4 linked regions of the Homo sapiens genome follow. The protein of the gene in region 2 purifies or fractionates together with the protein of the main gene of each other region. This does not show direct contact. Each region holds a gene or a part of one and is shown on either strand. Other genes may lie near its edges. The genes, in order: WDR36, CLMN, UQCC1 and TAOK2.

The links.
Region 1: the proteins of CLMN (region 2) and WDR36 purify together in Homo sapiens (affinity purification with mass spectrometry; one large-scale study listed by BioGRID and IntAct). This does not show direct contact.
Region 3: the proteins of CLMN (region 2) and UQCC1 purify together in Homo sapiens (affinity purification with mass spectrometry; one large-scale study listed by BioGRID and IntAct). This does not show direct contact.
Region 4: the proteins of CLMN (region 2) and TAOK2 purify together in Homo sapiens (affinity purification with mass spectrometry; one large-scale study listed by BioGRID and IntAct). This does not show direct contact.

The regions. Positions count from the first base shown.
Region 1 is NC_000005.10:111,101,620-111,105,875, reverse strand, and holds part of WDR36 (WD repeat-containing protein 36), read right to left. Parts: intron 3,532-4,256; coding exon 3,477-3,531; intron 2,091-3,476; coding exon 1,958-2,090; intron 1,700-1,957; coding exon 1,524-1,699; intron 1,180-1,523; coding exon 1,059-1,179; intron 582-1,058; coding exon 516-581; intron 1-515. UniProt on the Homo sapiens protein: Part of the small subunit (SSU) processome, first precursor of the small eukaryotic ribosomal subunit.
Region 2 is NC_000014.9:95,187,409-95,190,908, forward strand, and holds part of CLMN (calmin), read right to left. Parts: 3' UTR 1-3,500.
Region 3 is NC_000020.11:35,401,670-35,405,925, reverse strand, and holds part of UQCC1 (ubiquinol-cytochrome c reductase complex assembly factor 1), read left to right. Parts: intron 1-4,256. UniProt on the Homo sapiens protein: Required for the assembly of the ubiquinol-cytochrome c reductase complex (mitochondrial respiratory chain complex III or cytochrome b-c1 complex). Involved in cytochrome b translation and/or stability.
Region 4 is NC_000016.10:29,976,406-29,980,661, forward strand, and holds part of TAOK2 (serine/threonine-protein kinase TAO2), read left to right. Parts: intron 1-1,332; 5' UTR 1,333-1,367; coding exon 1,368-1,499; intron 1,500-1,683; coding exon 1,684-1,755; intron 1,756-1,846; coding exon 1,847-1,948; intron 1,949-2,393; coding exon 2,394-2,439; intron 2,440-2,568; coding exon 2,569-2,665; intron 2,666-2,789; coding exon 2,790-2,903; intron 2,904-3,011; coding exon 3,012-3,103; intron 3,104-4,256. UniProt on the Homo sapiens protein: Serine/threonine-protein kinase involved in different processes such as membrane blebbing and apoptotic bodies formation DNA damage response and MAPK14/p38 MAPK stress-activated MAPK cascade.

The sequences.
Region 1 (4,256 bases), on a different chromosome or scaffold from region 2:
TATTGTTAAAAATAATCTTAAAATTTATATACATGCATGAACAGTATAAGATAGTAACTTAAAAATTAGTAATCATAAAACCAAGTAAGATTTTGTTGTTTAATAAACAAAATCTTTCAAAGGCTGGAAACCATGAAAAGGGAAAGAGAATAAATGATTGCTTTAAAGCAAAAATATTGGATGCCACTTACTTTGATGCTTTCTCTAAGCTACCTTCCATTTTAAAAACTGTGCACTCTACAGATAGCTCAAGTGAGGCCATGAACATCTTTTGGGTGGCAGCAGTATGTTTTTACCACCCAAGATGTCTAACTTTTTTCAATAACCTTATAGCAGAACCTCAATCACTTCTATAGCAACTTTGATGCTAGGAATCTTACTACCTCTTCCATACATGTTTATCTAGTTCATCCAAGAAAAAATAAAATGCATTGATGAAACTTCCTCCAGTTGTTTCATAGAATGTTGAAATGTTTCTTTCGTGACCAGCTTATTTTGTCTTGTAGAGGACCTACCATGTCCCAAGCTCTTATTGAATTTTTCATGTACCGTGGAAAATGACTGAAGAGTTCCATCTTGACCTGTTGATATACACAGAAAATCCCTAATCAAGCTTCATTAAAACAAGGGACTATGTGAATCACAAATTTTATAAAATTCAATTTGAAAATCTTGAAGTTACAGTTTGGGACACTTTAAAGGGAAAACCAGATTGCAACTACTTCATTAAAATATTCAACTTTTTATAGAATGCCATTTAGTAAGAACAAAGGATAAAATGAAAATGAGGTACTAATAATTTTCAGCAGACTAACAGAATTTTTAGAATCTAACCATTCTGTCTCTGAGGATTAGTAAATAGAAGGACACATTAAGCATAGATAATAACATCTATAGTGCTTCTCAAGTAGACAAAAAGGACTCTTAGTTTTACCCAGACTTCTAAGTCACTCAAAGAGATATGTGAATCTAAGTATGTGTAAATATCAAACCTCATACTGGGCACCCACATCTCAATACTTGCTGAAATAAACTAATAGTATGAAGCAGAAGCTCACTTGCACTTAGAATCTGCTGTCCATTCTGTCCATAATATCTGATATTGGTAAGAGGAGCACTATGACCCATTCTGAATCTCAAAAGTCGGCCTTCACCTGTAGGACCATCAAATATCCATATCTGCCAAGAAATAAAAACGTCAGTTCTTCTACAATGTTCCATCTGATCTGCAAGCAGTCAAATCACCCCCTACATAAATCAACTGGTATTGAGTAGTGCTTGCTAAGCCACTGACTCTGGAGCTACAAGGGAGGGAGTGGGTATTGGGGGAGAAATAAACTGTAATTCTTTCCCGCTTCACTGCAATCATGTCACCTGCTGTGCTTTTTGTTTCATCTATACCAATATCTCATTCCATATTCCTTTCATCTTCTAGGTTGAAAGCTGATACATTAAAACAAGCTTGTAATAACCCAAAGGGTAAGTTAGATGAGCCAGGAAGATGTTAACAATAATCATAATACCCTAAGAGCATTGTCAGCGCCATTTGTGACAAGAAGTGGCTCTCTATGGAGAAATGTCAGTCCGGCAATTGCTGTAGAGTGTGCATTTCTCATTTGGTTGATTAATTTTTTGTCTTCTAGATCCCAGAGTCCAATATGGCCACATGGGCTTCCAGCTGCCATTACTGGATGACCATCTGTTATTAAAATAAAATACATTAAGAAAAATACTTCTAGATCCCCCAAAATAAACAAGAATTCTTCTCTCTTCCCTTTTAATCCATAAAGTTAGAAAAAAACTATATACCAATAATCTATTCATATTTCTTTGCCTTTTACTCCAGTATTCATTCACTTCTATTAGATTAAGCTACCAGAAGACAAAAAAAATTGACTTTTAAAGTAATGAATTTTAAGTGTTCTTAACTCCTATCAATAAGTATGTTAAAAGTTACCTGTGCGAAATGAAATTGAAGTAATGGGTCCCCAGTCTTGACGAAACTTCATTAATGTTTCATTAAATTTAATGTTGTGAATGATAACTTGACCTGACATAAGACCAATAGCAACAACATCCACGGCTGGTGCCTAAAAATTAAATTATTCAAACTTTTACTTTCTTAAGCAAAATAGCTTTAATAATCCTGATGATACGCATCATTATTAGGTGTTATCAAAAGAAATAATGAAGTATCTTCTAAAAGATGGCAGAAAAACTCAGCAAGTATTACCATTCAAGCATACTTTTTTATTCAGCATAGAAGTATTCAGTAATGATTTTTCCAAATTACTTCCCAGCTTCAATTCTGCCAGTCAACATCCCATCCTCATTCCCAAAACCTAGCTGGTAAGATTTTGGAAAGAAAACAACCACAACAGAAAAAGAAAGCTATGTATAAAATCACTACAGATCACTGGACTGGATGGAAACAGAAAAAGGAGACAACTAGAAAACATAAAGGCTTGCGCTATGTGTGGCAACATGTAACCAATTACAAAGGAAGTGAAGAATTGCTTATCCAAGAAAGTAGGAAAAACCTACAAAACATGTGAAAAGGCAAAAAAAGTTTTACAATTAGTCTGTTCCAGTTCTAATATTCTATGGTTATAATGGTCTATAATACAAGTCTTACATACAGGCTCTATTATGAATTTCTCTATTTTAGCAAAGATCAATGTCCAATATCATTATAGAATGGAATCAGGCTACACGTTTTATTAATTTGTCATCAAGTGTCTACTATGCATGAGACCCTGTGTAGAAATTGGAGATACTAAAACAGATATAATCCCTTGTCCTCAAGGGTCCTAATCCTCTGATACTTATGGAGTCTTCTGGATAGGCAAAAGTGGAGCTAGGCTGATGACAGCAAGAGAAGATAAGGAATACATATAAATTGGGCAAGTATAGACAATGGATACTGAAAAAGATAAGGGTATAGTGGCTACATATGTGGCCAATATAAACACAAGATTCGCTGTAGACATGCATTCATTTATTTATACATATTTTGCAGATTCATTAAAAAAAAGCAGTTATTTCTTAAATAGTCCATCATCGAATCAAACATTAGGATTTTGGCTCCAATTACTTCAAACCATAAATCTCAACATCTTGACAAATTTCTCTACATGACTTACAATACCGCTTGCATTGCTGAACACTCATTTCCAGTCTACACAAGACAATGGACTACATATACTTGCAAAATGATTAGAAACAAGGATCCATAGCAACCACAGATTTAAGTCAAACTATAAGCACAAAGGACTCCAATAAGTGTTATTGGCAAAGGCATTATTACTTGTTTTAACTTACATTTCCAAAACACTATTTCCTCAGGCTAACAATTTTAAAGGTAAACTAAGCTATATATTGTTTCGTCTTTACGTCTAAAATTATGATTGATTCCTGAAACTGAAGGATTTTCCTATTAACTTTGTTCCTCTTTGACTTAACAGAAAAATACTAACCTGCTGAAGAGCTGTCACTCCAACTTTCCATCCTGGAAATGTATATAGAAGTTTACTACAAGAAGAAAAATAGTTGAAAGCTGTATTTTTTTTTTTTTGGAGGAAAACAATATCAGCTACACATTAAAAAGTGAAATAATAATAGGTGATATTTATTAAGTTCTTACTCTTCCACACACTATTCTGATGATTAAGCTAATGTCACAAGGTTAGTAATATTGTCCAGACAAATTCTAGGTCTCAAACTAACTACTATGCTATGCCACCTCATTAAGAAATTAAATGTCCTAAGTGGAAAAAAAAATACGTGTGTAAAAATCATGTTATATTACAGGCTACAGTAAAAAAAATTTAGGACTGCAGTATCTTTATAGAAACATCATGAAAGGGAATAACTTATATTTTAATAAAAATATTATTTGCATGTTATATGACTGTTATATGACAACAGTAATGCTGCTCTCAATTTCAGAAGCAAGTCATGAATGATAAATAACACATCCATGGAGCAAACAGAGGTATCTGAAATCATTATAATTATCATTAAAATATTAAATCATGTATTAAATTCTGTAAATGGGCAAAGACAGTATTTCAGTCACTATTGCTGAACCTAGCACAAAGTAGGCAGTCAATGGTATTTGTTAAATTGTAATGAAACACTGATTTAAAACATCAAACCTTTAATAATCTTATTTTCCCTTTTGAATTTAAAAGGACTTTGGAAAAAAACAATTTGGATGGTCAAATATTTTTGTTTGCTTTTTAAAATGCTATACA
Region 2 (3,500 bases):
CCTAAAACCACATGCCTGCAGAGGGGAGGCCACAGAGTGGTCAGCAGAGATGCCCTGTGGCCTCCAGGAGAGGCTTGGGGATTGGAATAGGAGGGATGGGGTGAGACATGGGGCTGAAGACCAGGGCATTTATTGGCTCTGAGGTCCCCTGTCCTTCCCATGCAGCCAGATGACCACTGTGCTCCTACTCCATGGAGAAATCAGAGCAGCTCCAACTCAGGGACACCAGGCACAGCAAAGGTTGAAGCAACTTAATGAAAGTCTAAATACTCACGGGTGATGAGGCTGCCTGCTCAGCGGTCAGGACTCGGGCACACTGAGTATAGACCAGGGTCTCTGGATATGGTCCTACAGTTGTGCATTGCACAGAGGCACTTGGCTAAAGAGGGCAATTAGGAGTTAAAATCTAGCCTTTTCATTGTTCCTCGAGCATTGTCCAAGCTCAGAGCTGGGTATGTCTGGAGGAAGGGGCAAAAGGTGTCCTTTGCCAGTCAAGCCAAGTGCTCATGGGGACTTCTGCCCAGATGGGACACCATTTTTGAAACCACATGAGTACTCAGCATAGGCTAAAAGCCCTGTGTATGCCCGTTTCCCAGGAAGGAGAGTAGTGGGAATATCTCTCAAGAAACAGAATGAGCCCCAGAGAAAACACGTGCAAATACTGACAGGCAGTGTTCTCCAATGATGAGTCCAGGTGCCCACCTGGTGACCCTAGTGGAAAAGCTCACCAGTTGGCACACACAACTTCCAATCAGCTTTTGGATGCCTCACTCTTAAAACATGAACAGATCCATAGGATCACCATATATTTGAGAAAAATTCACAACGTGAAAGATAGAGACTGAGACCACCAAAATAAAGAGAACTCAGAGAAAATGAGGGCAACACAGGGAGCAGAAAAGACTTCCCCTCAGACCACAATCATTAACGTCCACAGAGAGACAAAATCTGCATCCACGCATCAAGAGCAGGACACTGTAAAACAAAGACAGGATAATAACCAAAGGTTTTATTAACTTGGAAAATAAAAATTCAATAAAACATTCAGATTGGGAAGATAAAAATGAATAATTCTTCCTGAAAGCAGATCAGAAACATAGACGAAAAATAGAAAAGATAAAAAATATTAGAGCATCAGCCTGGGTGTAGGGGAGGGTCCAACATTGAAATAATAGGTGGTCCAGAAAGAAAGAATGTAAATAATCACAAGAAAATTTAAGAAATTTCCCATGAAGGCCCAGCACAAGGTTTAACACCCGGGATACAACACCATCATGACAGTTCAGAACACCAAGAATAAAGAGATCTTAAATGTTTCCAGGAAGGGTGGATAAAAAAACCTAAGTCACATATAAAGGTACGGGAATCAGAATGGCATCAGAAATCTCAACCAGCACGCTTGGGAGGGGCTAGGGGAGGGTATTATTTTCCACCTGTCATTCTATGCTCAGCCACATTTCTGTTAAGGGCAGAATACAGACATCTTAAGTCATGCAAAAATCTCAAAATATTTACAACCATATTTACTTCCCATGTTCTCTTCCTCAGGAAGTTATTAAAGAATGTGCCACACCAAAAAAAAAAAAAAAGTAAAGAGAGAGAATAGCAAATTAATGGGGACATTTGGAGGAGAAAGGACATGTAACCATAACACACTGCTGGGCTTGGGAGTCAACAATCCTTAAGTGCTCCAGGTAATGTCAACACCTAATAGAAATGTACTAAATGATGTGATCTAGCTATACTGGAAAACCAAAGCACGGTATGGTAAGAGTGAAATCCTCCTCTACTGTGACAGCAAGCCAGTAGATGTTTCTAAATTAAAAAATAAAGTGTAAGCACGTTATGTAGAAATGCAAACATAAGAGAGTTGAAAGTGGTTACTTCTAAGCAGCGAGACTTAGGGGACTGCTAGTTCTTGTTAAAAGCCTTATTGTATTTCTTTTAATTTAAAAAAAATTTACAAGCAATGGGGTGGTTTGTCCTGCAGACTTCCACATCCATTTTCTATATCCAGCTTCTTCCATAGAAGCCTATACTCAAATGAGATTTTTTTTTCCTTTGCAAAATATCAGTTGACTGCCAACCTGAACCAAATGACTTTCAGGCATCTTGCCAGTAGATGTTTTAAACAATATTACAAGTTGTAATAGGTGAGAGAAGTATCTTGCAGAGGTTTTTCTGAACAAGGTCTAGACCCATAAAATGAAATGATTCACATTTGGGTTGGCTCTTCCCAGGCTCTTCGAGCATCTAATTTAGGCAAGGACTGCATGGTGCCCAGAGTTATAAACTATCACATAATCTTTATTATCTGTACCTTTGAGCTTTCATTGATGCCAGGGAGCTCATTAATTAGCTCATTTTCCATGGGGCTCTTGGCCTTCCAGATGGAATCACTCCAAGCTCCCAGCAGCTTTCTGGTTGGAAGGCTGAAATTCTTTCAGGAGGGGAGACAGACTATAATCAGACTGGTTTAGAGGCCAGATTTTGGCTGTCATCGACTCAGATGTGCTATGTAAATTCTTCTGGCCATGCTGGAATTCTGTAAACTTGAAACCCACTGCTTGAAATGAGCAAGTCCTTGGCTAGCAAAGAAAGAAACGTGATTCCTGGAGTAAGAGCGACGCTGGTATGTCAAATGACAAGCTGTTGCAGCTGTCAAGGGTATTTCAGAAGGAATTGGGGATGAGCTTGAAGGTGAGTAAGAATTCCTCATGGGAAAAATACAAGAACAAAACAAATGTCGATAGTTGGTCTAAACTTTTTGGTTTTGCTTGAATGTGGACATTTTAATCTAGTCATTTTATCTTTTTCTCAGGACATTGGTGTGCCCAGTGGAAGTTTCCTACAAGGGGTGACAGCTCTGGACAGGGCATCAGGTGCCTGTGTGCTCACTGCAAGTCTGCCCCTGGTCGGCTATATGATCTTGGTCAAGCTGCTCTGTCTCTCTGGGTCCAGCTAGACAAGATGCTCACTGAGTCCCCTCCTGACTCATTTGTGATTTTATAAGGGTTGCCTGGTACATGCTTTCTGAAGGGGAGAGCAAGGGGAGGAGGAACCAATGCAGAGACTCACCACGGACCTGAGTCTTGGCAGGGAGGAGAGAGCAGAGGGAGCCTGGGGCTGAGGAAGACTGGGGGCAGGGGTGCTAGAGATGCCTCTCTTCTTTCACAAACCTCCTGTGCTGGCCTGCTCCCGGAGTGCTGTCCAGAAAGCCTCTTCAAGAAACCCATTACAAGTGACCACAAAGAATGCCCGTTCCAAGACATGCATTCTGAGGGAGGTGTGCACCAAAGCTTTAGTGGGCAGGAAGCTACCCCACCACCCAGCTCCAGCACTGCTGGGAGCTGATTCCAGCCCAGCCACTCCTCATGGCTTTTATATGGCCCTGCTGGGCCCTGGCGATCTGGTTTGAAAATCATGGTTCTATCTCAATCCAATCAATGGAAAACTGAATTTCAAGTGTTATCTCCCCTCAAACAAAAAACAAAACAAAA
Region 3 (4,256 bases), on a different chromosome or scaffold from region 2:
TTAGTTGTTGGACTTTTCAATTCTAGAATTTATTTTGTCTTTAAAAAAATAACTTCTCTTTCTGTTGATATTCTCTTTGGTGCCATCTTGGCTCACTGCAACCTCCACCTCCCGGGTTCAAGCGATTCTCCCGCCTCAGCCTTCTGAGTAGCTGGGATTACAGGTGCCTGCCACCACGCCCGGCTAATTTTTGTATTTTTAGTAGAGATGGGGTTTCACCATGTTGGCCAGGATGGTCTCAAACTCCTGACCTCAGGTGATCCCCCTGCCTTGGCCTCCCAAAGTGCTGGGATTACAGGTGTAAGCCACCGCACCCGGCCACTTTCTTATAGTTCTTTAGACATATTTTCATTTAGATCTTTGAACATATTTGAAATAGTTAAAAATCTCTTTGTCTGCTGCCTGGGTTTTCTTAGAGACAGTTTCTATTGATTGCATTTTTTCCCCCTGTGTATGGGCCATACTTTATTGTTTCTTTGCATGTTTTATAACTTTTTGTTGTTGAAAACTGGACATTTTAAATAATGTGGCCACTCCGGAAATCAGATTGTTTCCCTTCCCAGGGTTTGCTGTTGTATTTTTGTTTAGTGACTTTTCTGAATTGATTCTGTAGTCTGTATTCTTTGTTGTTTGTGGCTACTGAAGTCTCTGCTTAGATAGCTTAGTGGTCAGGTAATGATTAAACAAATTTCTTTAAATTTCTGTTAAATTTCTTAAAATTCTGTTCTCACTGCCTGGAAGCAGTGAGTATCCCAGTTTTTGCTTTGGGGCTCTGTGTGCACGTTGGGATGTACCTATAACACTCTGCCAGGCATTCGATAACTCTGCCTTAACTTTCACTTCCTGCTATGCAGAACCTCAAGGTCAACCACAAGTAAGAGACATTCTTAGGTCTTTCCTGAGCATGTGCACAGCTTTGGGTATATGCACAGACCTGGGTATGTTCATGGCTTCCTAGATGCCCAGGAATATATTGGGGCTTTTCTAAGCCTCTGTGGACATCTTATTCCCCAGCTTTTCCTTTAAACCTTTTTGGTTAGCCTGTTGTTTTCTCCACCTGTTAATCACTGCCTCAGGAAGCCATGAAGTCAAACAGTTACCTCTATTTGTTTTCAACCGGTGCTCCTGGGGAAAAGGTTTTTTCACACTGGGTGAGTTCTAAGACAGCCTTGAAATAGGGCCTTCTAAGGAACTGTCAGACAGGTTGAATAATGCCAGTTCTTTTTTTTTTTTTTTTTCAGAGTCAAGCTTCTTTTTTTTTTATACTTTAAGTTCTAGGGTACATGTGCACAACGTGCAGGTTTGTTACATATGTATACATGTGCCATGATGGTGTGCTGCACCCATTAACTCATCATTTACATTAGGTATATCTCTTTTTTTTTTGAGATGGAGTCTTGCTTTGTCACCCAGGCTGGAGTGCACTGGCGCAATCTCAGCTCACTGCAAGCTCCACCTCCCGGGTTCACGCCATTCTCCTGCCTCAGCCTCCCGAGTAGCTGGGACTACAGGCGCCTGCCACCATGCCCGGCTAATTTTGTTTTTTTTTTTTTTTTGAGACGGAGTCTCGCTCTGTCACCCAGGCTGGAGTGCAGTGGTGCAATCTCGGCTCACTGCAAACTCCGCCTCCTGGGTTCACGCCATTCTCCTGCCTCAGCCTCTCCGAGTAGCTGGGACTACAGGCACCCGCCACCACGCCTGGCTAATTTTTTGTATTTTTAGTAGAGACGGCATTTCACCGTGGTCTCGATCTCCTGACCTCGTGATCCGCCCGCCTCGGCTTCCCAAAGTGCTGGGATTACAAGCGTGAGCCACTGCGCCCGGCCACGCCTGGCTAATTTTTTGTATTTTTAGTAGAGATGGGGTTTCACCATGTTAGCCAGGATGGTCTCGATCTCCTGACCTTGTGATCCGCCCTCCTCGGCCTCCCAAAGTGCTTGGATTACAGGCATGAGCCACCACGCCCGGCCTAGGTATATCTCTTAATGCTATCCCTCCCCGCTCCCCCCACCCCACGACAGGCCCTGGTGTGTGATGTTCCCCTTCCTGTGTCCAAGTGTTCTCATTGTTCAATTCCCACCTCTGAGTGAGAACATGCAGTGTTTGGTTTTCTGTCCTTGTGATAGTTTGCTGAGAATGATGGTTTCCAGCTTCATCCATGTCCCTACAAAGGATATGAACTCATCCTTTTTTATGGCTGCATAGTATTCCATGGTGTATATGTGCCACATTTTCTTAATCCAGTCTATCATTGTTGGGCATTTGGGTTGGTTCCAAGTCTTTGCTATTGTGAATAGTGCCTCAGTAAACATACGTGTGTGTGTGTCTTTATAGCAGCATGATTTATAATCCTTCGGGCATATACCCAGTAATGGGATGTCTGGGAATAATGCCAGTTCTTTGTAAGGCTTTGATGAACATCATCCCCATTCTGGAGTCAACTTGTCTCCTGAGGAGACTAGTTCCTTTAGTGGTTGTTGCTATTTAGAAACCACATCTGGGTGCTACATGTGCTTATTGCTACTGGAGTGTCATCTGCAGGCCCTACCAGGACGTGGGTAGGAAATATATATATGTCTATATATACACATAAACATGCATATATCTTTTTCTTTATATATTAAAAGCCCACACCAGTTATTCTAATCTATTCTAATACCACAGGGTTTGTTCTACTCTTTTGCCTTGCCATATTTGTTAACTCCTTTCTCTGATAGAAACCTGACCCCTCACCCTTAATGTATTTATTGATTTATTCAAATCTTTCCTGTATGTAATCAATCTTTTGAAAGCTCAGATTGAAAACTCCCAAAAAAGTGGGAGGAGGCAGTGTATAGGTAATTTTTTTTTTTTTTTTTGAGACGAAGTCTCGCTCTTGTCCCCTAGGCTGGAGTGCAATGGCGCGATCTCAGGTCACTGCAACCTCCGCCTCCCGGGTTCAAGCAATTCTCCTGCCTCAGCCTCCCAAGTAGCTGGGACTGCAGGTGCATGCCCTCATGCCCAGCTAATTTTTTTGTATTTTAGTAGAGATGGGGTTTCACTGTGTTGCCCAGGCTGGTTGCAAACTCCTGAGCTCAGGCAGTCCGCCTGCCTCGGCCTCCCAAAGTACTGGAGTAATTTTTTGTTATTGTTTGAGATGGGGTCTCACTCTGTCACCCAGGCTGGAGTACAGCAGCATGATCTCTGCCTACTGCAACCTCCGCCTCCCGGGTTCAAGCGATCCTTGTGCCTCAGCCTCCTGAGTAGCTGGGATTACCAGCATGCGCCACCATGCCCGGCTAATTTATATATATTATATATATATATATATTTTGTTTGTTTGTTTGTTTGTTTGTTTGTTTGTTTTTTGAGATGGAGTCTCGCTCTGTCGCCCAGGCTAGAGTGCAGTGGTGCGATCTCAGCTCACTGCAAGCTCCGCCTCCCAGGTTCACGCCATTCTCCTGCCTCAGCCTCCCGAGTAGCTGGGACTACAGGCGCCCACCACCACACCCGGCTAATTTTTTGTATTTTTAGTAGAGACGGGGTTTCACCATGTTAGCCAGGATGGTTTCAATCTCCTGACCTCGTGATCTGCCTGCCTCGGCCTCCCAGAGTGCTGGGATTACAGGCGTAAGCCACCGCGCCCGGCCTATATTATGTATTTTTTAGTACAGACGGGTTTCACTGTGTTGGCCAGGCTGGTCTCGAACTCCTGACCTCAAGTGATCCACCCACCTCAGCCTCACAAAGTGTTGGGATTACAGGCGTGAGCCACTATGCCCGGCCTGTATTCAGTAATTTTTGAAGGAATGGTTAAACATTCTCTTCTTCCCTCTGTGGAAATATCCTTTTGTATTATAGCATGCCACATTGTAACTGGAAGGAAAGTTTGTTACCGTAGTATCTGTTCTTTGGACTCCGGAATTGAGTTAGTATCCATGGCATTTGGAATATAGGCACCAGTGGTGACTTATAAAGTGGATTTCGGCTGGGCATGGTGGCTCATGCCTGTAATCCCAGCACTTTGGGAGGCTGAGGCTGAGGGATCACCTGAGGTTGGGAGTTCGAGACCAGCCTGACCAACATGGAGAAACCCCGTCTCTACTAAAAATACAAAATTAGCTGGGCGTGGTGGCGCATACCTGTAATCCCAGCTGCTCGGGAGGCTGAGGCAGGAGAATCACTTGAACCCAGGAGGCAGAGGTTGCGGTGAGCTGAGATTGCGTCATTGCACTCCAGTCTGGGCAACAAGAGTGAAACTCTGTCTCAAAAAAAAA
Region 4 (4,256 bases), on a different chromosome or scaffold from region 2:
GCTTCCAGTTGGGCTGAGACAAAATTAACAACACAACAGGAAACAATGCATGACAGAATAAATTACATGCTAAAATTGTTAGGTGCTTTTGAGTAGCTAGAACTCTGCCCCAGGAGTCCAGCTCTGCTGAAGGCTCCTTTGTGCCTAAATTCTGACAAGTGCTTAGGCTGGAGCCTGTCTTGGAATCTCCTTGAGGGTTTTGGTTCTGGTATCCTGCAGGAACTTTCTCCGGGTGTTTGGTTGGGTGCCCTAGGTGCTCTTCCCAATGGCTGGAGTGGTCAGGACAGGCTTCCTGCAAGAGGGGAGCTGAGCTTGGGGTGACAGCTGAGAGAGTAATGGATACAGGCCTAACCGGGGAGCCGAAGGTCCTGTTCTCTGACCTTGGAGAAGTCCTTTTTCTTCTCTGTGCCTCAGTGACCTCACCTAGGAAATGGTGATCATGATTCTGCCCTGCCTGTTTCGAAGGGCTGCTCTGAAATCATAGTGATGGAGGACCAGCTTTGGACAAGGCACTTAACCTTGCTGAGCCTGTTTCTTTATCTGTAAGATAGGGGAAATCATAGTACTTGCTTCATAAGGTTGTAGTGAGGACTGAATAGAGATAATGCACGTAAGGTACTCAGTAAATGTTATTTGTACCCTGCAAATGTCCTGTACCTGTGTGTGATGCTTATGCAGTTGGACAGGACAAGTAAGGTGGCCCAGAGCACAGAGAGGCCCTCATAGCCAGATGCCATTTATATCCCTATTCTTCCCATTCTAGATCTCCCCCTGACTTTTTTGAGAGTGACTTTGCGGGCTCCTCTGGGCCAGTACCCACTTCTAACAATGGACGGATTTCCACCGCCTCCGGCCTGGCCATTTCCTGTTCTCTTCCAGGGTGTGAGAGGTTGAGGGAGGAGGGGGCCTCAGCGCCAAGGGGAACAGAAAGGTGCCTGGAAACAGTTGGGGTATAGGACTTATGGGACAGGACACTTGGGGCTCTGGAGTGCTGGCTGGGAAGCAGAATGTTTTATCCTTGAGGGGAGATACAGGGGCTATAGGGAAATGAGAACTTGTTGAGCACTGAAGGGGGTGGTGAGGATACTTAGCTTCCCAGAATCTTCCTAGCAGTTTTAGGGACTCCAGGGACCCAGCCCGCGTGATCTGGTTGCCAGGGCAACTTCATTTTTTGGAGCTTTGATGTTGTTCCTAATCTCCCCCTCCCCTTCCTCAGCAGTGCCTCCTCCTCATCAGGGAATGAGGGGAGGAGATGGCAGAAACTTGATGGGTCCCTTCCTCTCCCTGAAGGCTCAATCCTTGATCTCTAAGGGTCCCATTTCCATTCCTCAGGCCAGGCCCCACTCTCAGGGCCCCCAGGGGCCACCATGCCAGCTGGGGGCCGGGCCGGGAGCCTGAAGGACCCAGATGTGGCTGAGCTCTTCTTCAAGGATGACCCAGAAAAGCTCTTCTCTGACCTCCGGGAAATTGGCCATGGCAGCTTTGGAGCCGTATACTTTGTGAGTTGGGTCTTGGGAGGGTGTAATAGGGATGGGGACTCTTCCTATCCCTGTGGACTTCCCAACAGCCCTTGCACACTACTCCATCACACTGGTCTTTCCTGCCTTCTCTTGCTGGGCCAGCAAGTCTTCCCATGCCCGGCTCTCAATGGGGCCTTCAACACCTTCTGGTCTGGTCCTCTAGGCCCGGGATGTCCGGAATAGTGAGGTGGTGGCCATCAAGAAGATGTCCTACAGTGGGAAGCAGTCCAATGAGGTGGGCCAGGTGCAATACAGCCAGGTTGGGGACAGGGGACTCCTGTCTCAAGATGCAAGCTGGGTAACCTCTGCCTACCCTGACCCCCTAGAAATGGCAAGACATCATCAAGGAGGTGCGGTTCTTACAGAAGCTCCGGCATCCCAACACCATTCAGTACCGGGGCTGTTACCTGAGGGAGCACACGGCTTGGGTGAGCTGGTGCCAGATTCTGGCCTGATCTTTACTCCTATTCATGCCCGTCCTTATCGTAGTCCAGTCTCTTAGGTGGTCCCTGTTCGTGGTGCTGTTGTGGGATCTTGGGAAGGAGGAAGTCTCTTTTGACCGCTTTAGTCCTCAGACATACCCACTGAGCAAAAGCCTGGCTCAGTGACACAGGCTGTTAGCAGGTGGGACAGGTCACTGTGGGCTGGAGAAGGTGGAGATTGAATGGGAGTTTGAAGGGATTCAGATGGGCAGTGGTGAATGTCTTGGGCCCAGACTCTAGAAACTCTCCCACCACCCCCTCATTGTCTCCAGTTGCGCTTCCTCCCTGTCATCACCCCGGGGACATAGCTTGAGTACAGGACAGTCAAGGAAGCTCTGTTTTGAGTCCCTGCCCAGGAGACTCTGATCTCTGACCCTTGTCTCTTCCTTAGCTGGTAATGGAGTATTGCCTGGGCTCAGCTTCTGACCTTCTAGAAGGTAAGTGACTGATAGGCCAATAAGTGGAGAAGGGAGAAGAGCAGGGGAGCCATAGGGAAGGGTTAAGGGGAGTTTATTCCAGTCCCACCCTTGCGCTCCCTCGGGTTGATGTTCTTCCTCACTCTCCAGTGCACAAGAAACCCCTTCAGGAGGTAGAGATCGCAGCTGTGACCCACGGGGCGCTTCAGGGCCTGGCATATCTGCACTCCCACAACATGATCCATAGGTACAAGCAGCACCGGCAGTGCCTGGGAGGGGAGTGCTATCTGCACCACCTGTCACTTAGCTGGGCTGCCCCTGCCTAGCTTTCTTGAGACACATGTCTCATCCCTGTACTTTGCCTCTGGCAGGGATGTGAAGGCTGGAAACATCCTGCTGTCAGAGCCAGGGTTAGTGAAGCTAGGGGACTTTGGTTCTGCGTCCATCATGGCACCTGCCAACTCCTTCGTGGGCACCCCATACTGGTGAGTGAGTGAGTGGTGGTGAGTGGAGAGACCTCCCAGGGATGTTGGGAGTAGGAGTGACAGGGTCTCGGCGGGTGATTTGCCTCTCTCTCCTGACCATTCTCCTAGGATGGCACCCGAGGTGATCCTGGCCATGGATGAGGGGCAGTACGATGGCAAAGTGGACGTCTGGTCCTTGGGGATAACCTGCATCGAGCTGGGTAAGAACATCCTCCCTGTTCCCTCATCATCTTTTCCATTCTTTCCTGTTAGTTCCCAGACTCCGGACTACCCCCTTCTCCTAGGGATGGGATCCCAGGCCTCCAAGTTCCTGTCCGTTGTGACTCTACCCTGGAGCCCAATACAGGCAGCTGGCAAATTCTGCCAGCTCTTAGGCCTAGAGATTTTGTAGCATTCATCTCTTCCTGTCCACTACCCTGGTTCTGAATCTTTTCTTAGTGCCCACCATGTGCTGTGCCATGGACTGTGATTCTGGAGGGATAGCAGTGAATGAAAATCCTGCCCTCATGGAACTTACATTTGATTTAGGGAAACCAGGCAGGCATGTTTTCTTTCAATGTGATGAACGCTGTGTGGAGAAGTTACAGGAGCGGTTCAAATGTAAAACAGGGGACTTGACCTAGTTTAGGGGCTGAAGAAGGCCTCCTTGTAGGAGAATATTGAAGCCAACCTGCAAGATAAATAATAGCTGTTTGCAGAATGTAGGGAAGAGCTTTCCAGGCAGAGAGAACAGCATGTGAGAGGCCTAGAGGTAAGTGCAGGCCTGGGGAACTGGGACTAGCTTCAGTTATTTGGAACCTAGCATGTAATGCAGAGAATATTGAAGGATAAGGCCAGAGAGTTAGGTCCAAGTGAGTTCCTAAGGCCTTGAAGCCATGCCAAGGTTCTCATCTCTGTCAGCCAGCACTATTGAAACAATTCTTTAATGAGGTAGGTAACCTTTATAAGGCTTCCAACACAATGCCAGGCACAAAACAGTTGCCTAAGAGTTGCTGTTAGTTTCTCTTATCAACAGCCTCCTGCAGTGATCTCTCCAGTCTCTTCTCCCTTCCAGTCTGTCTTAAGTACTGATGCCAGAGAGGTCTGCCTAAGCTCAGTGCTGTCATTTCACTCCCTGTTTGGAGCCATGAGTGGCCCCCTGTTGCCTTCAAGACTGAAGCCATCCCCATCCTTCCTCCCACCAACCTAGAGGCTTTGCTTCGTAAATGCTGGCCCTTTCCTTCATGGGCTCCACCCTCTGAGTGTGTCATGAACTCTTCCACTTCCTTGCCTTGGTTCGTATTGGGTCCTCTGCCCGAGGTCAGAGATTTGGACGAGCCCTTCTCCTCCATCTTCACAGTCTCCATTTACCAT